4 linked regions of the Homo sapiens genome follow. The protein of the gene in region 1 interacts with the protein of each later gene in a pairwise test. Each region holds a gene or a part of one and is shown in the gene's direction. Other genes may lie near its edges. The genes, in order: SH3GLB1, RHEX, PLIN3 and GNB4.

Evidence for each region.
Region 2: the proteins of SH3GLB1 (region 1) and RHEX interact in binary tests that used the Homo sapiens proteins (3 or more experiments, as listed by UniProt).
Region 3: the proteins of SH3GLB1 (region 1) and PLIN3 interact in binary tests that used the Homo sapiens proteins (3 or more experiments, as listed by UniProt).
Region 4: the proteins of SH3GLB1 (region 1) and GNB4 interact in binary tests that used the Homo sapiens proteins (3 or more experiments, as listed by UniProt).

The regions. Positions count from the first base shown.
Region 1 is NC_000001.11:86,707,563-86,714,586, forward strand, and holds part of SH3GLB1 (endophilin-B1), read left to right. Parts: intron 1-7,024. UniProt on the Homo sapiens protein: May be required for normal outer mitochondrial membrane dynamics. Required for coatomer-mediated retrograde transport in certain cells. May recruit other proteins to membranes with high curvature. May promote membrane fusion.
Region 2 is NC_000001.11:206,048,765-206,056,180, forward strand, and holds the start of RHEX (regulator of hemoglobinization and erythroid cell expansion protein), read left to right. Parts: upstream 1-4,408; 5' UTR 4,409-4,501; intron 4,502-4,678; exon of another isoform or gene 4,679-7,416. UniProt on the Homo sapiens protein: Acts as a signaling transduction factor of the EPO-EPOR signaling pathway promoting erythroid cell differentiation.
Region 3 is NC_000019.10:4,857,657-4,864,680, reverse strand, and holds part of PLIN3 (perilipin-3), read left to right. Parts: intron 1-3,269; 5' UTR 3,270-3,286; coding exon 3,287-3,352; intron 3,353-4,656; coding exon 4,657-4,855; intron 4,856-5,008; coding exon 5,009-5,091; intron 5,092-7,024. UniProt on the Homo sapiens protein: Structural component of lipid droplets, which is required for the formation and maintenance of lipid storage droplets. Required for the transport of mannose 6-phosphate receptors (MPR) from endosomes to the trans-Golgi network.
Region 4 is NC_000003.12:179,448,448-179,456,114, reverse strand, and holds the start of GNB4 (guanine nucleotide-binding protein subunit beta-4), read left to right. Parts: upstream 1-4,644; 5' UTR 4,645-4,769; intron 4,770-4,900; exon of another isoform or gene 4,901-5,138; intron 5,139-7,667. UniProt on the Homo sapiens protein: Guanine nucleotide-binding proteins (G proteins) are involved as a modulator or transducer in various transmembrane signaling systems.

The DNA.
Region 1 (7,024 bases):
GTGTCTGTAATTGTTAGAGATACATACTGAAATGTTTATGGATAAACTTATATCATATCTGAGATTTGGTTTTTACAGGGTATTTTTTTTTTTTTTTTTTTTTGAGATGGAGTTTGGCTCTTGTTGCCCAGGCTGGAGTGCAATGGCGCGATCTCAGCTCATTGCAACCTTCGCCTCCCCGATTCAAGCCAATCTCCTGCCTCCGTCTTTCAAGTAACTGGAATTACAGGCAGGCTCCACCACGCCCAGCTAATTTTGCATTTTTAGTAGAGATGGGGTTTCACCATGTTGGTCAGGCTGGTCTTGAACTCCTGACCTCAGGATCCACCTGCTTCGGCCTCCCAAAGTGCTGGGATTACAGGTGTGAGCCACCACACCAGTTGAGATTAGCGTTTGAATATTTCAAAAGAAAAAAACAGAAGTCGCTGAAACAACAGCAACGGAATGTTGATAGTTGTGGAAGGTTGGTTATGGGTTCATGAGGTTTCATTATACTGTTATACTTTTGTATGTTTGACATTTTCCATAATACTTTTTTAAAGATAAAATTTGTAAGAAAAAAAGGATGCTTCTAAAATAGAACATGTGAAATTTGGAATGCTGTGTGGTAGTTTTCAACAAAACACTGCTTTCTCATCTCAGTATTTATTTCATCACTGAGTTCCTACATTAAATTGCATTGACATCAGTATAATGCCAAAGTACCAAGTTTCATGCTAAGAATAGCTTAAGAGCTATGCCAATATCTCTTTATAAGCAGTAAGAACAGTAGAGAGAGAAACATTCACGTTTATAAATAATAATTTTCATTCAAATCAAATTGTACCGTAAGGAATATGCCATTCTTTGGTTGGCCAACGCCATACATTGTTTTCCATTTTACTTAAAAATTTCTAAGTTAAAAATTAAACATGTTTCTTGTTTTAAAAAAAGGTCAGCTCAAACTAGTAAAGCACATAGATGCGTCCCATCACCACTCCACTTCCCTCCTTTTAAAATTTGTTTATAAGCCTTGGTACTTTAAAAAGAATGTTAGACTAGAATGTATAAATGAGTAGGAATGTTTATTCTTAACTAGCCCATTTGGGTGCTTGTTTTTAAGTACCTCAAGATGGTAAAATACAAAAGTATCAGGTAATTCACCCTTGCTTAATTGTTATTTTACTAGAGTTTTAAATGCCATTTATTCTTAGAATCCATCTTTTTAGTCCAAACTTCTTAGTTGAGCATTAAATACTCCCTTACAATCTGGTCCTTTCTCTCACTTATATAAACACTGTATTCCAAATTATTTTTTAATTTCCAAAATATCTTCTACTTATTTTAGGCTTTTGTTCATATGGTTAGACTCCTCTTAAGTGTCCTGTCTGCCTATTCTTTCCTTTCCTTAAGATACAACTTTATTCATCTCCAAAATGGAGAGAGTAAAAAAAATTTTAAAATAAAAGTAAAATAAACTTTTTTTAAAGATATAGCTTCAAATCCATCTCAGCTGATAAGGCTTCTTAGACCACAAGAGCTTGCTGTGAAATCGTGAATCATTTTCAATTCCAAATGATGAGGTGGCACTTTTCTTCTAATGAACTGTTATGTTAGATCTCTTGGAACTCTAAAGTTCTGTTACTCTGACTTTCTTTAATAAGTTTGTATGTGCTAAGGCATCAACTCTGTTTCTTATTCCCCTCTTACAACATCTAACATGGTTCATCTTTTATATCATTTTAGCCAGGCAAATTACCATCCATATGTGAAGTTTAATCTTTGAAGGGCAACAATAAGCATGTTAAATAACAGTATCTTTATTAGTATTTTCTAACATTGTTTGCGGACCTTGAAGTTAACTAATACCAGTATAAATTGAGTACCTCCTAGGTGCTTGGCGTTGAAAGATACAAAGCTGAATGAGACCCTGTTCCTGCCCTCAGAGACTTCATAATAATAGTCTCAAACTTGTCATAAATCTTATTTGTACTAAATAGCCATTTTGTGAATAACTTTATTTGATAAATCTTTCAAGTGGATAAAGGAACAAGAGATGTGTTTTTAACTCAGAATTCTTATTGAAGCAAAACCTTGCTCACCATCATTAAAATAAGAGCAAAGACTTTCTAAAAAGAATTTTTCAAATCAAATTACTTAGGGAGGGAGTTCATTTTAATTTTCTAACATTTCCTCTAAACTGATTATTAAAGTCATACTATGAAATTCGTGAACACCAGCTATTTTCTAAGGAATATAGTTCTTAAAATATAGTTTTGAGCTTGGCCTTGATCTCCCATTTATTTCAGCAAGTGTCATGGTGTGTCTAAGGATGTAAAGATGAATATGATGTTGCCGTTCAATAGCTCCTGTCAGACCCTCCCTGGAGTTTCAGTTTGGCCAAACAACTCTCTCAAGCACTTCTGAAATCCTATTTCTTTTACAGAATTCACACCGTGACAACTTCACCATGTTTCTTAAATTCTAATAAATAAAATATGTCACATTCGAAATCCATACATTTTCTTGTTATATAAAAACTCTACATGTTTAGTGTTACTTAAAACTGTTTTCACATCCTTTGGTGCTATTTGCATTACTTTAGTAAAATAGATAGAAGATAGTTTGTTAACCTGATGTTAAAATTTACACTTATGTACTACATGAGTAAGGTAATTAGAAAATCTATAAAACTCTTTTAAATTCATCATATTTCTTGAAAGAATTTTTTTTTTTTTTTTGAGACGGAGTCTCGCCCTGTTGCCCAGGCTGGAGTGCAGTGGCACGATCTTGGCTCACCGCAATCTCCGTTTCCCAGGTTCAAGCTATCCTCCTTCCTCAGCCCCTCTAGTAGCTGGGATTACAGACACGCGCCACCGTGCCCGGCTAAATTTTGTATTTTTAGTAGAGACGGGGTTTCACCATGTTGGCCAGGCTAGTCTCGAACTCCTGATCTCAGGTGATCCACCCGCCTCAGCCTCCCAAAGTGCTGGGATTACAGGCATGAGCCACCGTGCCTGGCCTTTCTTGAAAGTATTTTTAAGGTAATGACAGAGCTACAAATTAATCCTAAACTCTTAACCACACCCAACTGATGTACTCCTAGTTGCTTTGCTACTATATTTAAAATGATCAAACACCTAAGTCAATTACTTTAATATTCTTTGGAGACCAGCTTACTGAAAGAACCTCAACACAGTTAATATATTTGAAGCAAAACTCCAGCACAGTGAAGTAACAGTAATAACAGCTGAAATTCCTAAATGGGCCAAAGAGGAAAGTAAAGTAATGCAGCATGCACTAAACCAAGCGATACATATTTAAATAGTTATGAATGAGTTTAGAACAGTGGTTCTCAGTCTTGGCTGCACTTAAAATGCTTGGGGAATCTTTATAAATGCCAATATATGAGCTACACCCCAGTCCAATTAAATTAGAATCTTAGGGGTTGGATCAGACCAGACATCAGTGTTTTCTAAAGCTCCCTCAAGTAATTCTAAAGAACAGCCAAAATTGGGAACCAATGGAGAAAGATGCACCTTACAGTTTACTAATACATTATTCAGAATCTGTGTTACATATTTTCCAAGAAATTTAAATTACTTTTAGAGTATTACCCTTTAGTAATACTGGTGATTAGAGTTTGCATTAAATAGATGTCTTTGATCACACACCCATTTTATTTGTAGTCTTTTTTTTTTCTAAAAGTAGAGTTTGGAATCCAGGCTCCTTATTTAATAATGTGGGTTATATGCCTATCCTGTAGTAAAAGAAGGATTACAGTGCCTGGTATAATGTAGCCGACTCAAAGACAATTCTTTCCGCAAAGCAATATTTAGAGAAAATATATAAAAGGGGATTAAACTTTTATTCTTATGCCACTTTGCCATATTACAAATGAAATATGAAAAAATTAGGTATCAAATTATATTTTAGAAAACATTGAGTTTAATGACTTACTAAGAAGATGCTTATTTACAGTTTGCCTTTTATTTTAGGTTGTTTACACAAAAGTTCTTAATTATTAAACTATACTGCCATCTATTCATTAAAAGATATGCTTAAAATCAACTAGTTTCTCATTAATACCTATTATCAAGAGATTACAAAATCAGTAATGATTTTTGACTTGAAGATGTTGAAAACTAAAATTTTTATGGGTTAATTTAAAATTTTTTGGTAACTAGGAAAGGGATCTTTTTTTAAAAGAAAGAATTAATAGGTCTTTTGCCCTTCTGAAAAGGTGCCATTATTATAATTTTGTTTGAGTCAAGGCAGTATTCTCCTAGTAGATCATAAAATCCTTGAGGGCAAGAAGTACATCAGATGCTGATCATCTTGCTGTAGAAGCCATAAATATTTTTGATTAGTAATTTAAATATTAATTTAGTTGAGATGACTCCTAGTGTCTGTAGTAGACGCATTATTTACAGTGCTTTAGAGAAAATGTATTAAATATTGTATTTGTTATCTTAATAAAGTGTACTTCTGATTAATTATGGAAAAATCCTTTTGCTTCCACCAATGATAAAATTTGGGAAATATTATGTCTTTTACAATTATATATTTAAGTAATAAGATTTAAATTTATAATTTCAATTTTAAAATATGATAGCATTAGCAATGTCCTTATTGTGTGTCTTCCTCCCTTTTATTCATTCATGATAGGATTTAGTTTACTAATTTTGGTGAATAATTATTGAATATCTTGTAGAAAGCAGAAGTGATCTGGGGGAGAAAGCTGTCCAGAGTGCTGCGAACAGACATAGGAGAAAGGAAGCACAGAATATGATTGGATAATAGTAATAGAAATAGAAAATACTAATTTTGGAAATCAGCAAGTATTTACTGGAAGGGTAGTATAGCATGATAAGACTATGACTCAAACAGATGTGAGATTGAATCCCAACAATGACACCTTGGACAAAGTGTTTAATCACCCTGAGTCTCAATTTATTAATCTCTACAATTATTCTTACTTTATTTTAAGATTCTTTCGAGTATTTGTTGTAGAATGCACAGCTTAGTTAATGGAATTTTTGAACATACACTAAGCCTTGACACAGAAGTATGAGAAAGATGTAAATGGATGTGCTGAAATGTGAAACATAGAAACATTGTCATGTGACCCTACAGTACTGCTATTTTCTAAACAGGTTTTCTGTAATTAGACTGTCTCACTCATGTGTAAGGGTTCCATGTATCTTCTGAACTAAAATAGTTAAAAAAAAAAAACCTACTAATTGTGTGTGTTTGTAGAATCTTTATCAGTTAACATATTTTCTTTCTTCCTCAGACTCATACAAATAAATCACTTGGTGCAAATACCCATCTTTGCTCTGTTATACTTTCATACTCTTTTCAAAAAGAATATATATTTATTGAGATACCTGGGAGGTAGTATCATGAGAGTCACAAAGAAAATGTTAAATAATTAAGCAAACAGGCCTTTTTACCTGAAGATTGAAGTGTTTTATTTTCCAAATAATTAACTTTCTAATTGCTGATTTTCCTGAAATACTGTCGGGAGAAAACTTGCCCTGAACCCCAGTTTGTATCAGATAAATTCAGTGACTATTTTATTTTATATTTATTTATTTTATTATTAACTTATTAATTAGAGATAGGGTCTTGCTGTGTCACCCAGAATGGAGTGCAGTGGAGTGCAGCTGGGACTACAGGTGTGCACCACCATACCTGGCTAATTTTTTGGATTTTTTTGTAGAGACGTGGTTTCGCCATGTTGCCTAGGCTGGTCTAGAACTCCTGAGCTCAAGTGATCTGCCTGCCTCAGCCTCCCAAAGTGCTGACATTACAGGCGGGGGCCCCTGCTCCTGGCCATAAGTACTGATTTTGAATTATTGATCTGTTGATTTTTCTATTAATCTATTCTTGGTTATTAACTATAAGTTAAGGATTTCCACAGAGAAATTAATATTTAATATGTGTGAGGGTGATGCTAATGAGCTTAAAGAAATTGTGCAACTGGAAGATAAATCATCAGGACTATACACTCTTTCCTTAGATCTTAACATAGTTCATATCATTCAGTCACAGGTCGTTTGTTACCTACTCAGAGATGCTGTTTCTCTAACTACCCGCATCTCACACTCCTCAAACTCCTGCTCCCCTTTCTAGGCCCAAGTTGCCCATCCCTCCCCCACTGAAGCCTTCCCTGATTCTCCTGCTCTCCCTCTTCCTCTCCCTGAAGAATGAATTCTTTCTCTGTACTTGGATTTGTATGTCACTCAGAAACAAACCAACCATGTTGGTCCGCTTTACCATCTTCATATCTTTATATCCTTATTATCAGATTATTTATTTATCTATTGTCTGTCTTTGCCATTAAAATGTAAGCTTCCTAAGAACAGAAACCTTATATGTTTTGTTGGCTGCTGAAACCCATGTGTTTAGAAGAGTGCCTAGCACATATGTAGGTGCTTAATAAGTATTTGTTGAAGGAATAAACAAAATGAACAAACAAATGGATAAACTTGCTTATTAAAGGGAAATTTATGCATGCAGTTTCAATTTTTAAGGGGCTAAGTGAATTTTTTTTAGATCACTCTTTATAGGTGATGTTCACCTGAGTGAAAGGTATTCCCTTTCTTCCCTTCCTATTGGTCACTTTATCTGGGAGTTATTTTATCTAGCCATTGGTGGTAGACTTTGAACATGTAAAAGTCTAGTAGGAGGTCTGTTGCTTAGAATCTTCAGGGATCTGTAAAGACTACGGGGTTCTCTGTTAAGAATGAGGTTGCATAGTTTATCCAGCTGGCCTTGGGATCAGGGTTTGCTTTTGCTCAGTGCCCAGTCCTCCAGCTACACTGCAAGTTTATGGGCTTAGGCAATAGCTTTGTAACTGCTATTTTTGGTTCTACCCACTAGGTCAGGGGCTGGCTATAGACCATTCTCAAAAAGACCCAAGGCTTTACAAAAGCTATTTAAGCTGTTATTTCTAGCCCCTAAACAGGAGCCTCAGTGGAGATTGTAACCAGAAGTCTAAGAATAGAATTCTAGAGGATCCTTCAGCTTAAGGTGTTGA
Region 2 (7,416 bases), about 120 Mb from region 1:
CCCAACCTCAGAGCCTCCTTGTTGCCTCATGCCTGGACTTTGCCCCTCTGGTAGAGCCTTTCTACACAGCCGCTGCACTGCCAGCCAGCAGGCTCCGGGGGGAATTCTTGTGTCCAAGCAATTGCTGTCCTCTTGACACATCGCTATTTGAGAACACCCAATCTGTTCCTCCTGAATCTTTTGGCTTGCACCCCTGGATGTAGCATAGCACACTCTTGGCAGATAAGGCAAAATGCTCCTCTCTTGCCCTATGGTGAAGAAATGCCATGGGTCCTTAGATCAGCAATTCTCAAACTCTTTGGCCTCCAGACCCCTGTACACTCTCAAAAAGTACTAAGGAACCCAAAACGCTATTGTTTATGTAGTTTATATCTATTCATATTGACCATATCAGAAATTAAAACTAAGAAAATTTAAAAATATTTATCTAATCCCCTTAGAAAATAGTACCAAAGCCATTACATCTTAAACATAACACTTTTTATGAAATATAACTATTTCCCAAAGCATGAAGAATTTAATGAAAAGAGAAGCACTGTTTTATGCATGTGCAAATCTCATTATTCATACCTAGCTCAATAAAAGACAGCTGAGTTCTCAGGTCTGCCTTTGCACTCAGTCTCATGCCATACCACATGTCACATAGACTTTGGGAAACTCCACTGTATGCTTGAGAGAAACTGAGAGTGAAAAAGGCAACTAGTATCTTAGTATTATTAAGAGAGTGGTTTTGACCTCATGAACCCTCTGAAAAGATCTCTGGAACCCCCAGGGGGTCCCTGGACTACACTTTGAGAACTGCTCCCTAGATCATTGGTTTCTTGATGACAAGGCCTTTTTCTATTCATCCTTACAGACTGGGTTATTTATTTATTTATATTTATTTATTTATTTATTTAAACTGAAAGACCAGTGTAATAGGACAGACTGGGCTTTAAACAGACTATGTAGTTGGCACTCAGTAAACTTTGCCTGAATTGTTTGGAAATGTCTGTGTCATGAGGGTTTATCGCTCCATCATCAGCATCCAGGGACATGCTATACTCACTCTAGTGATGCTGTTATTGCTGAAGGCGTTTGGATTCTCCTTGGAGGTCGGCCTTTAGAGAAATTGGTAGTTCTGTTGAATATCCTCAGTGATGTCATATCTTTGTTCTCTGAGGAGTGCTTTGATTTTTGGAAACAGCCAGAGTGAAATCTGGATTATAATATGAGTAGTCAAATTGGGTAACACTGTATTTTGGATTTGTAAAAAGGAATACTGACTTCCTAAAACTGGGATGGCAGATCTACTTTAATGGCCATTTCTCTAATTTTACACACATATTTACACCTGTGCAAATGATGTTTGTTGCAGTTTAATAATTACATCATCATTTCAAGTGTAAAAAGTGGAAACAATCTAAATTTACTACTAGATGACCAGTTAAATAAACTGTGAGCAACCATAGAACGGAACACTCTGAAGAGGAAGAAAGGAATGAGAAAGTTCTGTATGTATTAATAATAAATTAACTCCTAGATATATTAAGTGAAAAAGCAAAAGGCAAAACAAAGTATGTAGTACACTGTCATGTGTAAGGAAGACGCCTGTATGGTGAGTGTGTTTCTGTGTGTCTGTGTGTTTGCTCATGTACACATAACGTACACAATAAACTGGGCATGCTGGTTTCCTCCAGGGAGGAGAACTAGATGGCTGGGGTCAAGAGCAGATGAGCAGCTTTTCCAGGACTATCCTTTTGTACCTTTTGAATTCTAAAACCATCTGAATGTGACCTAATGAAACAAACACTTCAAAAGTCCCAAACTGAAAAGGTGATGATGTCCTCCCCTTACAAAATTAAAAATAAAAACAATTTTAACACTTAGAAAACCTATTCTCTAAAAGAATTCTCTGTATTTCCTGGCCAATAACACAATTGTTAGAAGAAATGTACAATGTACCAGGTGACATGTGGAAGGGGACAACAGAAGGGGGCAATGACAGGCACTTGTGAAAACATTTGCCTTTTTCTTGATCACGTCTTGTTCCTCTTCTCATCCTTGCTTCATTTCACAAATAGGGGAACTGAGTCCAAGTAAGTGAAGTGACTCATCCGTGCCACCTGGGCTCTTGGTTCCAATGCTTGCCTTGTTAGGGGATTTCCTGACTGCTCCTGCAGCTCTCTTTGCTAGAATGTGGTAAGAGTTGGGGGAGGAGAGGGTGGCAGATCCTCTTTCATTTGGCCTTAAGCACACCTCCCTCTTCGCCTCTCACCCTGAGCAGGGCTGGCGCCTGAGGCCGGTGAACACCTGTGGTGGTGGCTGTGGGACAGCATCTTCCCCTGCTCTTTCTCTTCCTTCTTCCCCTTGGCCACCCACACCCAGGCAGGTGTCCTCCCCAACCCCAGGACACTGCTCTTGGTGTTTCACAGGCACGTGTCCTCTTTTTCTGAAATTGACATTACCCAGTTCAACATCACCTACTTTACCGGAGTACTTTGGGCTCTTTCAAATCAATTTCCGCTTCGAAGGCTAAAGATTTGTCATCAGCTAAGAGGTTCAAAAGTCTGTGGTGTAGGCTCTCCAAAATTCTGGCAGAGGTCAGTTGACCCTGGCTTTTATGAAGGAGTCTTTGGCATTCATTCATTCATTCATTTATTGAAGAAATATGTATTGGACCTATTCATTGCATGAGGCACTTTCTAGACACTGGGGGTGAAATGTTGGCCAAAACAGATAAGGTCTCTGTTCTTATGAAGCTCACATTCATGTGATGAGAGGCTGACAATAATCAAGTAAACAAATAAATGATCAAGGTGACTTCAGATACTAATAGATGAGAGGGCGATGTGACAGATAGGGTCTGGGGAGCCACCTTTGAATTTGTGCTGAATTCTATCTGAAGATGCCTTCACTAAGAGAGAGGTGCTGTCTCCATGGCCTTTGAGGCCCTCCCCTCCAGTGGTGAGATTTTAACAATCTCCCCATCTGACAGGTTCCCATGCAGGAATGAAAGACATGGAAGGGAAGAGGGGGGCCAGCTCCCTGAGTCCTGTGTCCACCAGCTGCTGCTAAATACCTCTGAGAAACTCTGCTTCTATCTAAGGGGACCTACTTCTCTCGGGAATCTCAATACTTGGAACAAGAACCTCCTAGACGGACCCTTTGGCATAATGAATTGGACCAACTGTAGGTTCCAGGACTAGAGAGCCAGCAATGCCTCCATGAACAATCTCACCCAATTACTCTGCTCAGGTAAGACCAACTGAAAACTAGAACAATACAAATGGTGGTTATTCCTGTCTTCTGTTTCTTTGTTTGTTTTTGTGACAGGGTCTTGCTCTGTCACCCAGGCTAGAGTACAATGGTGTGATCATGGCTCACTGCAGCCTCGACTTCCCTAGCTTAAGTGATTCTCCTATCTCAGCCTCTCAAGGAGCTGGGACTACAGGCATGCAGTAGCACACCCAGCTAATTTTCGGATTTTTTTTTTTTAAAGTAGAGACAAGGTCTAGCTATATTGCCCAGGCTGGTCTCAAACTCTTGAGCTCAGGCGGTCCTCCTGCCTTGACTTCCCAAAGTGCTGAGATTATAGGCGTGAGCCACTGGGCCTGGCTCGTTATTACTGTTGAATAATAGTCTGATCACTGAGTTCTTAAACAACTCCATGAGGTAGGCATTCATATTCTGTCTGTTTCACAGATGAGGCTCAGAAAAGCTAAGTGTTTGTCCTAAGATCACAGTTAGGAAGTGTCTGAGACCCAGGTCACTGTGAGGGAAGAGAGAGACCCTCTCATATTGTTTTATATTGTTTTATACTCAGTACCTGTTTTAAGGAAAAACAACAAGGAAGTAAAACCAAAGACAGGCAGTCCGGCGCCAGGCCCGAAACCAGGCCTGGGCCTGCCTGGCCTAAACCCAGTAGTTAAAAATCAACTCATAACTTAGAAACTGATGTTATTCATAGATTCCAGACATTGTATAGAAGAACATTGTGAAACTCCCTGCCCTGTTCTGTTTCTCTCTGACCACCGGTGCATGCAGCCCCTGTCACATACCGCCTGCTTGCTCAAATCAATCATGACCCTTTCATGTGAAATCTTTAGTATTGTGAGCCCTTAAAAGGGACGGAAATTGTGCATTCGGGGAGCTCGGATTTTAAGGCAGTAGCCTGCTGATGCTCCCAGCTGAATAAAGCCCTTCCTTCTACAATTTGGTGTCTGAGGGGTTTTGTCTGCGGCTCGTCCTGCTACATTTCTTGGTTCCCTGACCAGGAAACGAGGTAACTGATGGACAGCCGAGGCAGCCCCTTAGGCGGCTTAGGCCTCCCCTGTGGAGCATCCCTGAGGCGGACTCCGGCCAGCCCGAGTGACGCGATCCAAAGAGCACTCCCGGGTAGGAAATTGCCCCGGTGGAATGCCTCACCAGAGCAGCGTGTAGCAGTTCCCTGTGGAGGATTAACACAGTGGCTGAACACCGGGAAGGAACTGGCACTTGGAGTCCGGACATCTGAAACTTGGTAAGACTAGTCTTTGGAACTTGCCCCACTCCATCTAGGTGGAAGTGTGGCCTGATCACCCACGACATGCCTGCATTGGCACTTCTGTTCTGGTTTTGACTTGACTTAGATTGTGTGATACTTTGGTTTTGGTTTTGGTTTTGACCTGGCTTGGATTTCTGGATACTCTGATTTTGGTTTTGATTTTGGTTTGGTGTAAACTGCAAGAGTGTGTATGCCCTTTTTACCTGTTTTTTTGTTTGTGGCATGTGTGTGGTGTGGGTGTGGTGTTTTGTCTCGAAGAAGCATGGGTCAGGTACAAATAAGCCCACCCCACTAGGAACTATGTTAAAAAAAAATTCAAGAAAGAATTTAAGGGAGATTACAGTGTTACTGTGACACCAGGAAAACTTAGAACTTTGTGTGAAATAGACTGGCCAGCATTAGAGGTGGGTTGGCCATCAGAAGGAAGCCTGGACAGGTCCCTTGTTTCAAAGGTATGACACAAGGTAACCCGTAAGCCAAGGCACCCAGACCAGTTTCCATACATAGAAAGTTACAGCTGCTTTTATACCCCCTTGCCCCGCCAACGTAGTTAAGAGAACAGCAGCATAAGCGGCTGGCAGAGGCAAGGAAAGACCAGTAGAGAGAAAAAAAGGCCATCTATACCAATTCTAAGTTAATTTAGACTAAACAAGGTCTTAATAGCAAAGGATAATTGAAATCCCAAACTTACAAGGTTTTCAACAAAAGTGAAGTTTGCTTAAAGTTAACAGTGTAACATGTATTATGGTAACTTCTAATCTTGTGGCCTTAGACAGTCTAGTCCAAAGGCATAAAGAAAGTTTGCTTTAAAAAAAAAAAAAAGGAATGGTTATCTTCAAAAAAAAAAAAAAGTGGGGGGAGACAGAATTTATGTAAAAAGAGTGTTATATGGTAAATTCTTGTCCTGAAATAAACTAACTGGTGTTTAAAGAAAAAAAATGTTTGTAATAAGTCAGAAAGTTGAGACACATTGAAGAATTGTCGGCAAAAGTCGTGAAAGAAAAAATGTTATAAAAAAATTTATGCAAAAAATGTTGTATAATTTAAAAGTAATAAGGCCTCCTGAGTACTATTAAAAAAACAGTTTATGTGCAAGGTGTATAAGAAAAGTAAAACATACCTTTGGTAAAAAGATTATAAAGGGGCATAAGAATGTGGATTTTTACCTACATTAAAAGGTTAAAAACAATTATTGTTTTAAAAGTTTAAGCAAGTTTTAAAACGTTAATTATAAAGAAAATTCTGTGTGTAAACATATTAGCTAAAGTTAAAAAGGTATCATCCAGTTTTTCTGTGAACTGGACATTAAAGTAAAAAATGCCACAGGTTTTTCTTAAAGCATCAACCTGCTCTTTAACAAAAATTATAAAAGGTTAAAAAGAGTCTATAAAATCTTACCTTATGGTCAAACATGAAAAATTGGATAAATATGTCTACAAGGTTTTATTAAAATTCAGTTTAAAATTAATAACACACTAATATAAAGGTAAAATTTAGCTTATCTGGTATAAAAATCATACAAGAAACATTATTAAATATAAAATGGTGTTTAGCTTTCTTTGGTCTAAAAACTAATAAAAATTGGTGCTAAAGGAAACATTCATTTTACTAGAGGATCATAAAAGTTAAAGACTTAAAACAAACTTTGGCAATTAAGACAGCACGCCAAGATGCAAGTGCCTGGCTGAAATGGATCAAATATTCCATCTGCACTTTAAACAAATGCAATTGTTATGCTTGTGCACATGGCAGGCCAGAGGCCCTGATTGTCCCCCTTCCACTAAGGTGGTCCTCCAGTTGACCAGGCATGGGCTGCAGGGTAGCTATTTTCCAGGTTTCTACAGCTTGGAGTAATAAGTCATGCCAAGCTCTCTCTGCTATATCCCAAAGTCCCTGCGGGTCAGCCCCTGAGGGCCGTCCAGCTTCCGTCTCCCAACACTAAGTTCACTTCATGTCTCTCATGGCAGGGAGGAGACTTAGCATTCCTTGGAGACCTGAAGGGATGCAGTGAGCTTAAGAATTTTCAAGAGCTTATCAGTCAGTCAGCCCTTGTTCATCCCCGAGCGGATGTGTGATGGTATTGTCGTGGACCTTTATTGGGCACTCTGCCGAATAACTAGAGTGGCACTTGTGCTTTAGCCTATTTGGCTATCCCTTTCACCCTGGCATTTCATCAACCAGAGGAAGGAAAAAAAAAATAATAAGACATCGTAAAGCGAGAGAAGCCCCTTATGGGTCTTTCAACTCTCACATCTATTTAGATGCAATCGAAGCCCCGCAAGGAACACCAGATCAATTTAAAGTCCGAAATCAAATAGCTACAGGATTTAAGTCAATATTTTGGTAGATGACAGTCAATAAAAATGTAGATTAGATAAACTGCATCTATTACACCCAACAGCAATGAGCTTTTCATGAGTTGAAAAAAAGAAAAAACCCATGTCGGCCCCAGCCCTGGGGCTACCTGACCTGACAAAACCTTTTACACTCTATGTGTCAGAAAGAGAAAAAGTGGCAGTTGGAGTTTTAACCCAGACTGTAGGGCCCTGGCCAAGGCCAGTGGCCTATCTCTCAAAACAACTAGATGAGGTTTCCAAACGCTGGCCCCCATGTCCAAAGTCCCTGGTAGCAATAGCCCTGTTAGCACAAGAAGCAGATAAGCTAACTCTTAGACAAAACCTAAACATAAAGTCCCCCTATGCTGTGGTGATTTTAATAAATACCAAAGGACACCATTAGCTAATGAATGCTAGACTAGCTAGATACCAAAGCTTGCTCTGTGAACATCCCCGCATAACCATTGAAGTTTGCAACACCTAAACCCCGCCACCTTCCTCCCGGTGTCAGAGAGCCCAGTTAAACATAACTGTGTAGAGGTATTGGACTCAGTT
Region 3 (7,024 bases), on another chromosome or scaffold:
GACTTCATAGCTCTGCGGTGCAGGCAGGCATGTTATCTCACTTTTTAAAAAAAGCCTAAATTTTGGCTGGGTGCGGTGGCTCACAGCTGTAATCCTAGCAGTTTGGGAGGCCAAGGTGGGCAGATCCCTTGAGCTCAGGAGTTCAAGACCAACCTGGGCAACATGGCAAAACCCCATCTACTAAAAAACAAACAAACAAAACAACAACAACAACAAAAAAAAAAACAAACCACGGCTGAGTGCAGTGACTCATCCTGTAATCCCAGCACTTTGGGAGGCTGAGGCGGGTGGATCACGAGGTCAGGTGTTCAAGACCAGCCTGACCAACATAGTGAAACCCCATCTCTACTAAAAATACAAAAAATTAGCCAGACGTGGTGCACACCTGTAATCCCAGCTACTCAGGAGGCTGAGGCAGGAGAATCGCTTGAACCCAGAAGGCGGAGGTTACAGTGAGCCGAAATCACGCCACTGCACCCCAGCCTGGATGACAGAGCAAGACTCCCTGTCCAAAAAAAAAAAACAAAACCACACACACACACACACACACACACACACACACACACACACACACACACACACTAGCCAGGTGTGGTGGTGCGTGCCTGTAGTCCCAGCTACTTGCAGGGTCAAGGTGGGAGAATTGCTTGAGCGTAGGAGACAGAGGTTGCAGTGAGCCAAGATCGCACCACTACACTGCAGCCTGGGCGACAGAGCGGAAATCCGTCTCAAGAAAGAGAAGAAAGTTTGCCCTATTTAACACATTTTATCCCTTGACTAGATCTTTGTTCATGTCATGTCAGTTACATTTAGTCTTTTGTTTGTTTTGTTTTGTTTTCTTTTTTTTTTTTTTGAGATGGAGTCTCGCTCTGTCACCCAGGCTGGAGTGCAGTGGTGCAATACCAGGTCACTGCAACCTCCACCTCCTGGGTTCAAGCGATTCTCCTGCCTCAGCCTCCTGAGTAGCTGGGATAACTAAACATGGAGGCGTGCACCACCACGCCTGGCTAATTTTTGTATTTTTAGTAGAGACGGGGTTTTGCCATGTTGGCCAGGCTGGTCTCCACCTCCTGACCTCAGGTGATCCTCCTGCCTCGGCCTCCCAAAGTGCTGGGATTAGAGGTGTGACCCACCACATCTGGCCCATGTGAGTTACATTTAAATCTCTTTTTTTTTTTTTTTTGAGACAGAGTTTCGCTCCTGTTGCCCAGGCTGGAGTGCAGCGGCGCGATCTCGGCTCACTGCAACTTCCGCTTCCCGGGTTCAAGTAACTCTCCTGCCTCAGCCTCCTGAATAGCTGGGATTACAGGCATTCGCCACCATGCCTGGCTAATTTTATATTTTTAGTAGAGATGGGGTTTCTCCATGTTGGTCAGGCTGGTCTCGAACTCCTGACCTCAGGTGATCCACCCGCCTTGGCCTCCCAAAGTGCTGGGATTACAGGCGTGAGCCACCGCACCCGGCCTTTAAATCTCATTCTTTAGCCACTGCATTGGGATACACTTATTTTTGTTTTTGTGTTTTGAGACGGAGTCTCACTCTGTTGCCCAGGCTGGAGTGCAGTGGCGCGATCTCACCTCACTGCAACCTCCGCCTCCTGGGTTCAAGCGATTCTCCTGCCTCAGCCTCCTGAGTAGCTGGGATTACAGGCGCCCACCATCATGCCTGGCTAATGTTTGTATTTTTAGTAGAGACGGGGTTTCACTATGTTGGCCAGGCTGGACTCGAACTCCTGACCTCGTGTTCCACCCACCTCGGCCTCCCAAAGTGCTGGGATTACAGGCGTGAGCCACTGTGTCTGGCCACACTTGTTGTTTTCTTATTCCCCTTTTGCTGGGCATCCAGGTTGTTTCCAGTGTCATGTTGTGGCCAGTAAGTCCACACAGCTCTGCTCATGTGGAAACACAGGTGTGGGTTCTTCCCCGAAGTGAGGTTTCTGGGTCAAGGGGAAGATGGCTCTTGGAACTTGACAGCTATTGGCAAATTGTCCTCTACAGAGGTTTTAGGTCATACCTGGCTTGCTGGAGTACAGGTGAGCCCTGAAGGGACTGTTCCCAAGCCTTGCTTCCTGACGTGTGTCCCAGGGACCAGCTGCATCAACACTGCCTGGGAGCCTTTTAGAAATGCAGGGTCAGGGCCGGGCATGGTGGCTCACTCCTGTAATCCCAGAACTTTGGGAGTCCAAGGCAAGAGGATTGTTTGAGACCAGGAATTCGAGACCAGCCTGGGCAACATAGCAAGATACCATTGGCCAGGCACAATGGCTCACACCTATAATCCCAGCACTTTGGGAGGCCGAGGCGGGCGGATCACGAGGTCAGGAGATCAAGACCATCCTGGCCAACATGGTGAAAACCCGTTTCTACTAAAAAAATACAAAAAATTGGCCAGGTGTAGTGGCACACGCCTGTAGTCCCAGCTACTGGGAAGGCTGAGGCAGGGGAATTGCTTGAACGTGGGAGGTGGAGGTTACAGTGAGCCGAGATCGTGCCACTGCACTCCAGCCTGGCGACAGAGCAAGACTCTGTCTCAAAAAAAAAAAAAAAAGATAACATCTCTACCCAAAAAGAAAAAATTAAGTAGGCGTGGTGGTGTGTGCCTATAGTCCTAGTTACTTGGGAAGCTGAGGCAGGAGGATCCCTTAAGCCCAGGAGTTAGAGGCTGCAGTGAGCTGTGATTGTACCACTGTACTCCAGCCTGGGTGACAGAGCAAGACCCTGTCTTTAATGAGAAAAAAAAAAAAGAAAGGATCAGGTGTGGTGGCTCACACCTGTAATCCCAGCACTTTGGGAGGCCAAGGTGGGTGGAACACAAGGTCAGGAGTTCAAGACTAGCCAGGCCAATATGGTGAAACCCCGTCTCTACTAAAAATACAAAAATTAGCTGGGCGTGGTGGTGGGTGCCTGTAATCCAGCTACTCGGGAGGCTAAGGCAGGAGAATTGCTTGAAACCAGGAGGCGGAGGTTGCAGTGAGCCCAGGTTGCCCCACTGCACTCCATCCTGGGCGACAGAGTGAGACTGTCTCCAAAGAAAATAAAGAAAAAAAAAAAGAAATAGGGGGCCAGGTGAGCCCCATCCCGAAGCTTTAGAATCAGCACTTGCTATTGAACAAAGTCCAGAGGTCACTCTTGTGCCTGCTAAGGACTGAAAGACACAGCTGTAAGTCATGGGCAGGTGTGAACCCTGTCTTCCAGCTGCAGCGTGGGCCTGGACTTTCTCCTGGAAGGTGGGGCCAGGCAGGCTGTACCTGACTGTTCCTCTCTCCTCAGCGTCTGCTGCAGAGACCATGTCTGCCGACGGGGCAGAGGCTGATGGCAGCACCCAGGTGACAGTGGAAGAACCGGTACAGCAGGTGAGGAAGGGCCGGGACCAGGGACTGCCCCGACCCTGTGATTCCCGTGCAAGGAGGCTTCCCACCCCAGGGTGCCCTGGCAGGGAGCCAGGGATCTGCCGGCAGCTCACGGAGCCAGAGGGATTTATTCCTCAGTGGGGTATGGACCACTCACTGGTGTCCCCAGTTGGGAGGGGGGAATCTCAAAGGCCCTTGGAGGGCCTGAGGGAGCAGGGTTCTGTCTGAAACTACCTGCCCTCCCCAACCCCTGAGCCAAATCATCCTCACCTCTGAAGGCTCTCTCAGGGACGTCCTAGGAGGCCAGTTTCTATTCCAGATCTCTCATCCTCAGGTGATTTTATTTTATGTATATATTTTTGAGATGGAACCTTGCTGTGTCGCCCAGCCTGGAGTGCAGTGGTGACATCTTGGCTCACTGCAACCTCTGCCTCCTGGGTTCAAGCAATTCTCCTGCCTCAGCCTCCCAAGTAGCTGGGGTAACAGGCATGTGCCACCACGCCCGGCTAATTTTTGTATTTTTAGTAGAGACGGAGTTTCACCATGTTGGCCAGGCTAGTCTCAAACTCCTGACCCAAAGTGACCCACCCGCCTCGGTCTCCCAAAGTGCTCGGATTACAGGCGTGAGCCACTGCTCCTGGCCCCAAAAATAATTAAAATTTAAAAATCAAGTGGTGCGCTGGCTGTGACCCATGGGCTGTGGTCTACAGCCCCCGGTTTAGACCCTAACTGCCATGAGAATGGAACTGTTGTCCCTTATCACCACCTGGCACATCGCTGGGATAAAGTGCAGGCTCATGTAAATAGCCTGTGTTCAAGGAAGCACGTGGGCTGAGTGCGGTGGCTCACGCCTGTAATCCCAGCACTTTGGGAGGCTGAGGTGGGCGAATCACGAGGTCAGGAGTTCAAGACCAGCCTGGCCAACATGGTGAAACCCCATCTCTACTAAAAATACAAAAAAATTAGCTGGGCGTGGTGGCACCCGTAATCCCAGCTACTCAGGAGGATGAGGCAGGAGAATCGTTTGAACCTGGGAGGTGGAGGTTGCAGTGAGCTGAGATCGCATCAGTGCACTCCAGCCCGGGCAACAGTGCAAGACTCCGTTTCAAAAATAAAATAAAAATAAAGGAAGCACGTGGCGAAACCCCAAGGTTCCTGGCTTGTGCAACTGCCTGGATGCAAAGTGTGGGTAAACTGAGCCGTTTCACTGGCCAGGAGTAAGAGCAAAACTGCAGGGCACCCTGAGTTTCCGGCTGAGCTCCCCATCTTCCCCCACCCAGTTTGCCTGAGCCACTTCTCTCCTGTAGCCCAGTGTGGTGGACCGTGTGGCCAGCATGCCTCTGATCAGCTCCACCTGCGACATGGTGTCCGCAGCCTATGCCTCCACCAAGGAGAGCTACCCGCACATCAAGACTGTCTGCGACGCAGCAGAGAAGGGAGTGAGGACCCTCACGGCGGCTGCTGTCAGCGGGGCTCAGCCGATCCTCTCCAAGCTGGAGCCCCAGAGTGGGTGAAGTCCCAGGGGGCACTGAATTCCCCTCCTGGTCATTTCCCTGGGTGGGGAGTAGGGGGGTCTACCCAGCTCTTGGTCCTGTCCCCCTGAACCATTACTAGGTGACCTTCCAGCAGTCACATTTGCGTCTTAATTGTTGTTGGCAGTTGCATCAGCCAGCGAATACGCCCACAGGGGGCTGGACAAGTTGGAGGAGAACCTCCCCATCCTGCAGCAGCCCACGGAGAAGGTAACGATGTCCGTCCTCAGGGGCTCTGTCGAGACAGGGACCTACCTGGGTGTGGAGTGCGCTGGTCCCAGCTTAACTAGACAAGCTTGATGGCATCCTCCCTGCTGCCTCTCCTGTCGGTTCCCATCCCCACCCCGAATCCACTCCCCACAGGGTAGCTGGAGGAATAATTGCAAAGCCAGCCAGATTACAGGCGCCTGCAACCATGCCCATCTAGTTTTTGTATTTTTAGTAGAGATGGGGTTTCACCATGTTGGCCGGGCTGGTCTCGAACTCCTGACCTCAGGTGATCCAGCTGCCTCAGCCTCTCAAAGTGCTGGGATTATAGGAATGAGCCACGGTGCCCAGCCCACTTGTTTTTATAATAAAGTTTTATTGGCACACAGCCATGCCCATTTATTTACATATTGTCTATGACTGCTTTCACCCTACAATGGCAAGGTTGAGTAGTTGTGACAGAGACTGTGACCCACAGTACTGAAAATCTTAGTTACGTGGCCCTTTACACAGAATGTTGCCACCTCCATAACTTATTAGTCAGAAAAGGTTGGCGGCAGGAAAGTCAAAACATCAAAACACCATGTTCCTGGCCGGGCGCGGTGGCTCATGCCTGTAATCCCAGCACTTTGGGAGGCCAAGGCGGGAGGATCACCTGAGGTTGGGAGTTTGAGACCAGCCTGACCAACATGGAGAAACCCCGTCTCTACTAAAAATACAAAATTTATCTGGGTGTGGTAGCGGGTGCCTGTAATCCCAGCTACTCGGGAGGCTGAGGCAGGAGAATTTCTTGAACCCTGGAGGCGGAGGTTGCAGTGATCCGAGATCATGCCATTGCACTCTAGCCTGGGCAGCAAGAGTGAAACTCCATCTCAAAAAAAAAAAAAAAAACCAAAAAAACACCATATTCTGGCCAGGCGCGGTGGCTCATGCCTGTAATCCCAGTACTTTGGGAGGCTGAGGTGGGCGGATCACAAGGTCAGGAGATCGAGACCATCCTGGCAAACACAGTGAAACCCCATCTCTACTAAAACTACAAAAAAAAAAATTAGCTTGGCGTGGTGGCGTGTGCCTGTAGTCCTAGTTACTCGGGAGGCTGAGGCAAGAGAATCACTTGAACCCAGGAGACGGAGGTTGCAGTGAGCTGAGATCGCGCCACTACACTCCAGCCTGGGCGACAGAGCGAGACTCTGTCTCAAAAACAACAAAACAAAAAAAACACCATGTTCCAAACTGTGTCCTGCCCCTCAGCAGCTGGGTGGCCCTCACACAAGTTACTTTGCCTCTGTGGGCCTCACTTTTTTTTTTTTTTTTTTTTTTTTGAGACGGGGTCTTGCTCTGTTGCCAGGCTGGTGTGCAGTGGTGCAATCTCGGCTCACTGCAACCTCCACCTCCGGGTTCCAGCGATTCTCCTGCCTCAGGCTGCTGAGTAGCTGGGGTTGCAGACGTCTGCCACCACGCCTAGCTAATTTTTGTATTTTTAGTAGAGACGGGGTTTCACCAAGTTGGCCAGGATGGTCTCAATCTCTTGACCTCGTGATCCTCCCGCCTCGGCCTCCCAAAGTGCTGGGATTACAGGCATGAGCCACTGTGCCCGGCCCCCTCTTTTTTTTTTTAAGATGGAGTTTCGCTCTTGTTGCCCAGGCTGGAGTGCACTGGTGCAGTTTCAGCTCACTGCAACCTCCACCTCCCAGGTTCAAGCGATTCTCCCGCCTCAGCCTCCCGAGTGGCTGGGATTACAGACATGTGCCACCACACCTGGCCAATTTTTGTATTTTTAGTAGAGATGGGGTTTTACCATGTTGGTCAGGCTGGTCTCGAGCTCCCGACCTCAGGTGATCCACCTGCCTTGGCCTCCCAAAGTGTTGGGATTACAGACATGAGCCACCAGGCCCAGCCTGGGTCCCACTTTCTTTTCTACAGAATGGCAATGCTG
Region 4 (7,667 bases), on another chromosome or scaffold:
AAAAAAAGTCTATGTCCCTATTACATGAATTTGTGACTGCCTAGACCAAGTGAGGATAGTGGAAGCAACACTATGTGATTGCTGAGGCTAAGTCATAAAAATGCTATGCATTTCCTCCTTGTTCTCTTGGAACACTTGCTCTTAGAACCCAGCCACTCTAATGCAAGGAATTCCAAGTAGCCCGTGGAAAGCCCTACGTGAAAAGGAACTGAAGTTTCTGCCCACACACCTGGCTGATCTTCCAGCTAGCAGCCAGCACCAACTTGCCAGCCATGTGAGAGTGCCATCTTAATAAGAGTCAAACTATCTGAGCCAGCATGGAACAGAGAACACGTCTGCCAAGCCCTGCCCATGTTGGAAATTCATGAACAAATTAAATAATTGTTGTTGTCCTAATCCACTAAGTTTGGTGACTTGAATAGAGCAATAGATAACTAATATGTCATCTCATTTTTAAACTCATGTTTTTACTCACTTAACAGAAACAGATCAGAGTTCCTTTTGAAAATGTGGTGTTCAGAAGAGTTCTTGGGATGAAATGAAGCTTACAGGGCAAGAGTCCACGATTGATTAGTGAAGTCATCCCCGGACATAGTCTGAGAGATGGCACCAGTGTTGTCTATTTGTCAATCGTATTAGAATTCAGCACCTTCATTTTATATAATTAAGACAGAATGCTGGCAGGGTAAGATCTGCTTAAGATCACACAGACATTTAATACCAGAGCCAAAGCTCTAAATCAAGTCTTCTGATGTGCAGTTTAGTGTTTTTTCACTTTGACATGTCCCTTTCCGGGGACCTGAATTCCCTGATTTCCCTGAATTCCCTGATTCCAGGGACCTGAATGACAGGACATAGAGCAGCAGATATATGCCTGCATGCTTCTAGTTCCCTCTCCCATGCCTGTGACAGATATCATTGACCCTCTCTTAAGGTCACTGGGATGCACTTGGATGACAGATTCCAAATTCCCATGGTTAACGAGAACCTGAGTGGAAATAAACAAAAGCTATAACTGATTTGTACCACCAGTGTCAGAGGAGTACAGCAAAGGTGACTCAAAGTACAAACTGTACTTTGATATGGAAAATGCATTGTGTGTGAGCAAGAGGGAAGGCTTTAGGCATGACTACTCTGTATCAAGGATGTCTGTCTGAAACCACACATAGACTGACTTCTTACAGAATCTACTAGGGAATTGCTTCTCATGTCCTTGGGAAACTGTGCTGTAGATCCTGTTAGATAATTTCCATTTAATATTTTATAACTTATTTTGTTGTGGGTGAAATAAAATCTGTTACGGTAGTTGTGATGTTGTATGTATATAATTTGGCCTCATTTCAAACACAATAGAATTGGAATGCATACAACACATACAGGGCGGTACTGAAATATTGTACACTTTAATAGCTGTGTTCTTCACGGTGTGCTTGGCATCGTCTGAGAGCAAGGTAGGCTCAGAAAAAAATATAGACCATTTCTAGGGTAAAACTTAAAAGCAGGATATACAAACCTATGGCACTATGGATTACAGGGTAGCTCACTGAGTACAGCATTCAGATTCATCCAATGTAGGACCAAGAGCAGAGCTTCTCTGAACTTGATCATAGTGAAGCAAAACACCCTGCAAAAGAAACTGTAACTAAACTCCTAGAAAAGCAATGACCACTTTCTCCTCTCCTATGATTCTGACTAGCGTGTGGGATGGGGTGAGGTATGCAGGTTATTTGCATAAAACAAGCAGCCAAGTGCATTCACTCATTTATTTGTTCGTGGAGTACCTAGCAAATGCAAGGTGCTCTGTTAAACACTATGGCAGACACAAAGATGAAACGGACAAGGATTTTGTCTTCAAAGGTTCTCTAGTAGGGACCCCACTATGCTCTCTTAATAGAGTAGGATTTGAGAACATGGGCCTAATGAGTTAGAAATCTAATTATCAGCCAGTGGCACCCAAACAAAAGATCATGGGGCTTAATCCTCAGAAGTAGGATACATCTCTACAATTGTCTACACAAACCAGCAGGCATCAGAAATGTTAATAGCATACCCCTTCACCTTTCTCTCTGCCTCCCTTCCCAGTCTCTCTCTTTTGTTCTTCGTGGATTTCATTATCATTGGAAAAATCATGAATTGCTGGATCACTTAGATGCATTAGTGTGCTCTTATGAAATCATTCCTGATGACAAAATTCTTTTAATCAGCTCCACTTTCAGATTTTCAGTATAGGCTTGTCCTTTAACAAGTAAGTTTTTTTTTTTTTTTCCAGAACAATATGGAGCAGGTATGGCAAAACAGAAATACAATATTCTTGGAAGTAGATTCGTTTGGATAATAATTAAACTTTCCTTTTTCTGTACTTGGACTTTATTCTTCTAGTAATTTCTTTGTCTACATTAAATTTTCAGGAAGATTGACGATATCATTCTTTTAAACTCTTTAAAAGACAGTCAAATTCTTGTTACATCTTTTCAGGTTTTGTATTTTATGTTTAGGAGCTGTTCATTTATATTTCCCCTCATCTTTTCTGGAATAGACTATCTCATTGCTTCCCACTGTGTTTTCCTAAATACCAGCAACTTGTTTTTCAACAAATAATCTTAACCCAACAACCAGCTCTCAAAGCTTTATAACATCTGGTAAATGCTAGTGCACAGGAACAAGGCAGAAAAGAATCTAAAGAAAGAATATGGGGCCGGGATCGGTGGCTCACGCCTGTAATTCCAGCACTTTGGGAGGCCGAGGTGGGCGGATCACCTGAGGTCAGCAGATTGAGACCAGCCTGGTCAACACGGTGAAACCCCGTGTCTACTAAAAATACAAAAAATCAGCCGGGCGTGGTGGCTTGTGCCTGTAATCCCAGACTTGGGAGGCTGAGACACGAGAATCGCTTGAATCCTGGAGGTGGAGGTTGCAGTGAGCTGACATCACATCACTGCACAGTGACTCCGTCTCAAAACAAAAAAACAAACAAAAAAAAGAAAGAATGTGGGCTTTGGAGTTGATCCAATCTGATGTCATGCAGGGCTCTACCAATACCTTCGTGACTCCGATAAATTAATCTTACCAGGGCATCAGTTTGCTTATCTGTAAAATGGGGATAAAATTCACACTTCAAGGTAATTATGAGGATTAAGTACAGTATAAGAAAGCAGAGAGCATGGTCCGTAATAGGCACTCTTTAACAATTTCCCTTTGCTTCCTCCGAAAAACGACAATCATAAAACTCAGGATTTAATCATTAAAACATAAATAGTTACAGATGCAAAACACTCATGTCCCAACGAGCTCTTCTGACACTTTGATATGCAGAATATTTGGCATTTCTTTCTTCTTAATGGAAAAATGCTCCTAATATTAGTAAAAATGAAAATTTTGGGGGAAAAATTATCCACAGTTTCTTTATCTGTGGATAAAGAAAATAGAAACAGCTGCTTCTATTTTTGTCACGGCCTGGCTTTTATACAAAACGGTCACATTTTCCCCACAGTCACAAACAGGGTGTGTTTATCATGGCATCACCTCTTTCAAGGGACTAATAGATTTATTCCAGGTGATAGTGGGAAGCAGCTACAGAAGGAGGATTGGAAGGCTGAGGGGTTGTTAAAGTTATCTGATGATATTGTTCGAACATTTCTCCGGCACAGAAACTCCACAAAGAACTCCTCTGCAGTTTTCGCTACCCAGGGCTGTTTCTTTAAATTGTTTGACGTCAGAGAAGGAATGCTATAGCAACAGTCTGTCAAACTGGAATTAACTCAGAAGAAAAATGGGGGTGGGGAGAGGAAAAATGCTCCCAGGCGGTACTGACTTCAGAGGAAGCAAATTGGATAGATGCATTTATTTTATGACATTTTAAACATAAAACACCCAGATAAATGTGAAAAAAAAAAAAACTCGATTGAGATGCATGTGGTGTTTAACTCATGCAGAGAAGAGCGACTTGGCAGGGATATCTGGAAGGCCTTCCAGTTTTATCAATGACAATAGGAACAATAACTTCCAAGTATTGGCCATTTATTTGGAGGCAGGCTTCGTGCAAACATCACTTCATTTAATATGCTTAGCACCTTTATGAGGCAGGTATCAGTATCTTTATTTTGGCGATGACGAAACTTAGGCCCGAGACGGTACACGGTCCTACAACTAGTGATGGAAGAGCGGGGACTGCAACGCAAGGTTGTGCAACTCTGGGCTTCAGTTTACTTTCTGACATTTAGAATTCCAGAATGGGAAACCTAAATGGGGCCTTTGGGGTCTTCTAGCTCTGCCCTTCGATCCTGCTAACAAGCAAACTGGCGCCTGTCAGCGCCGGAAAGGAAACTGGCCACGCCACTTAGACGGGCGCTACTTAGCAGCGTGCCCCGGCGCCACACCAACAAGAAAACGAAACTGCCCGGGAATGAATGTTTTTCTTCTCCTTCTGGCAGGAAACGAGAGAGAAAATAGGAAGCAGAAGCTGCGCGCGGCGCCCGCTCCCTTCGCCCCCCGCCCGGGCTGCGCGCGCTCCGAGGGTCTGCGCGTCCCCGGCACGTCCCCGCCGGGCCCGCGCGCCTCGTGCCTCGCGCCTCGCGCCTCCAGCCACGTCCCCGCCCCGGCTCCGGCGCGCCGCGGAGTTGGCTGCTGGGAGGTGCGGGACTGGGTGTGGCCGGCGGCTCTGGTCTCGGCTGTGAGCTGCGCTCTCCACGCCGGCTCCGCGCTCCAGGGGCTGCTGAGCGCCCAGCGGACACCGGCAGCGCGCGGTCGACGCGGGCCTGAGCTCCCTCCAGGTAGGCGGCGAGCTCGCGAGCGGCGGCTCGTCGGTGCGCCCCGCGAAGCGATCCCGGGCTTCTCGCAGGGACGTGGGGCGCCGCGAGCCACCCCTGCGGAACGGGGCCCGGGTGACGGCGCGGGGCGGGGCGGGTCTCCCCGGGCTCGGGCGGCCGACGCTGCCCGGGAGGGACGAGGAGGGCGCGCCTGTGTCGCGCCCAGCTGCCACGCGGGAACTGGCCCCACGACCGCCGGCGCAGGCACTTCCCGGGCGGTCCAGACCGCTCGCCCCGGGGAGCGAGGAACGGTCGGCGGTCCAAGTCCTGCAGACCCCCCTGGTTTCTCGTCACTCCCCGAGGCCTCCTTCCAGGAACTCAGAGCACGAGCCCGTGCGTGCCCCCAAAATAACGGGTATTCGGGACTGCCCAGCAGGGCTGTTGGGTGGAGAGTGCTTGGAAGACTCATAAAAGTTCTACGCTGAGTCCAAAATTAGTCCAATGGTTTTGTTTCAGATTTATTTTGGAAATGATATAATGTCCAGAGTTTGGGGATGGGAGGGGATTGATGAATTTTGAATACTTGTGAGTTCAGTACAATAAAAAGTGTTTTGCTTTTCTCTCCACCTTTTTCTGCTTCAGAACACAGATGATTGCCATATACTTTGATATGTATTGCTATTCGCTAAGGGAACGTTGAATTTTCAAAAGTTTGAAACCAGGCTTTCATTTGTTTATACAAGCAATACTTTGTTATTTTTCGTCTCCTTGTGTTCCCTTTTCTCCCACTCCTTCCCTTTCTCTTTCCATAAAGGATAAGGATGCATCTTTCTCCCTCTCAGCCACCGACAAAGTAGCTTGGCGTGTGGCTTAGCGGGAAGTTTTCTTAAAACGTTCAAAATTTAATTGTTGATTAGAACTTTTATTATGAGTCCGTCTCAGTGTTGCAAACAGAGTTTATGACCATTAAGTACATCTTCTAGGACAGAGACAGAACACACGCTACTTAATTTAAGATGGGAGGGAAGTTATTTCTAGTCGGAGAGGAGGACGGCTGATTAGGTGCATTCAAAATTGTGTGCTTCGAGTCTCTGCCATTGTTCATTTTAATACTCTTCAGTTTGGGGCTTTTGGTTTACTACTGATCCTAGGCTCTGAAAATTTACTGTATATTTCAGTATGTGGCTTAAAGACATTTTAAGATTTTCCATGTTGCATTTTGGTTTGTAGATGAATTTGAAACTGAAATAGAAACTTTTAAAATATCATCTTATTGAACGTTGTCAACCCTCTGTATATACATTTATAAAACTGATTGATACAGCTTGTGATATTTTAGGTTGGTTCAACTCTTTGTGGGCCCATAAACATTATTTAGGAAGTTATTCCGAGTCTTTGGCCTTTGTTAACCTGTAGAATTGTTTCTTTTAAACAATTGGCATGTAAGTATGTCAGCACATACTTTTACACTTTAAAAATAGACTCTGGGGCAATTTGAAAATTAAGAATTGGAACTAAGTGTTGGACATTCTTCTGGCCTTACCAAATACTGCCTGAGATGGTGTGATTTCTCTTAGGCATGTTATTGAAGTCAGCTGGCTGTATCATCAGTTTCTTTACCTTGCTGACTATTTTAATCTGCGTCTGTTATGGACTTATTTATTAAAATATCTCTTCTGGGCTGGGGCAGTGCTGTAAGTTATTCTACTTATATCTCACAGTAACACCATTATCTACTTCCACAGGTAAGGAAATTGTCTGTGAGGTTTTAAGTAACTTGGCAGTGGTCATGTAGGTGTTAGGTAACTCAACTGGGATTCGAAGCAAGACCCCTCTGTTTCCAAAGTCCATGTTCTTTCCCCTGAGCCATATTAACTTAGTTCGAGGGCATGAGGAGTGACCCTCAATTACTCATTAGCATGTGTGTAAAATATCCAAGACATGCCAGAAGCATGTTTGTTTTTCCAGCATGATCATTATTGTCTGTCCCATGTTTTTATACAGCTTCTCACATCAGCCATTCTCTTCTCACCACTCTACTCCTAGTTAAATGTCTTGTTCCAAGTTCAAAACCTCCCTTTTGCCAGGGCACAGTGTATCCTATTGATATTAATAGGTAGTGATGGCTTAATTATCTTGATAAAACAGTAACTCCATTTTAATGTGGGTTCTCTAGAGATAGAGTTATAACTAATTTGGAAGGTTACAAACAGGATTGCGGTCAATTTTGGGATATGAGAACCCTTTGATATCCCTCAAATTAAACTAGAGGATATTTTGATGGATATTTCCCTCTGCAATTTATCATACTCTCTCCTGCACCTTCAATTTGTCAGTTACTACAGAATCATTTACATTATTGTACAGTCTGCCATTTTAAAATAAAATGGTTTCTTGATCCAGTGTTCTGCTTCAGTGACTGCCTCATTTCTTTTTATTTATTTATTTTTATAAATAGAAGCGGGATCTCGCTGTGTTGCCCAGGCTGGTCTTGAACTCTTGGGCTCAAGCAGTCCACCCACCTCAGCCTCCCAAAGTGTTAGGATTACAGGCGTGAGCCACGGCGTCTGGCCCTGCCTCATTTCTCTACCTCACCTTGAGGAAGCGTAGTTTTTTGACAGAACAAAAAATAAATACAGGAGTGAGAACCAGAAACTAATTAGTTACCTACAGGCACCGGGTAGGAACTGAGTAAATGGGAACAACAGAAGGAATGGCCTTGTTCTGAATGTACTTTTTTGCATAGTTTTGAGTTTTGGAAACTGTTAGTCTTTTTTATGTTCAAAAATAAAATTAACAAGATGTGGAGAGTGGGACTCCAAAACAATACAAACAGCAACAACAAACCGTGTATTTATGTGAATAATATAAACTCCCAGAAGAAAAAAAAAAAAACCAAGTAAGTTTTGAGCACAGGATTAA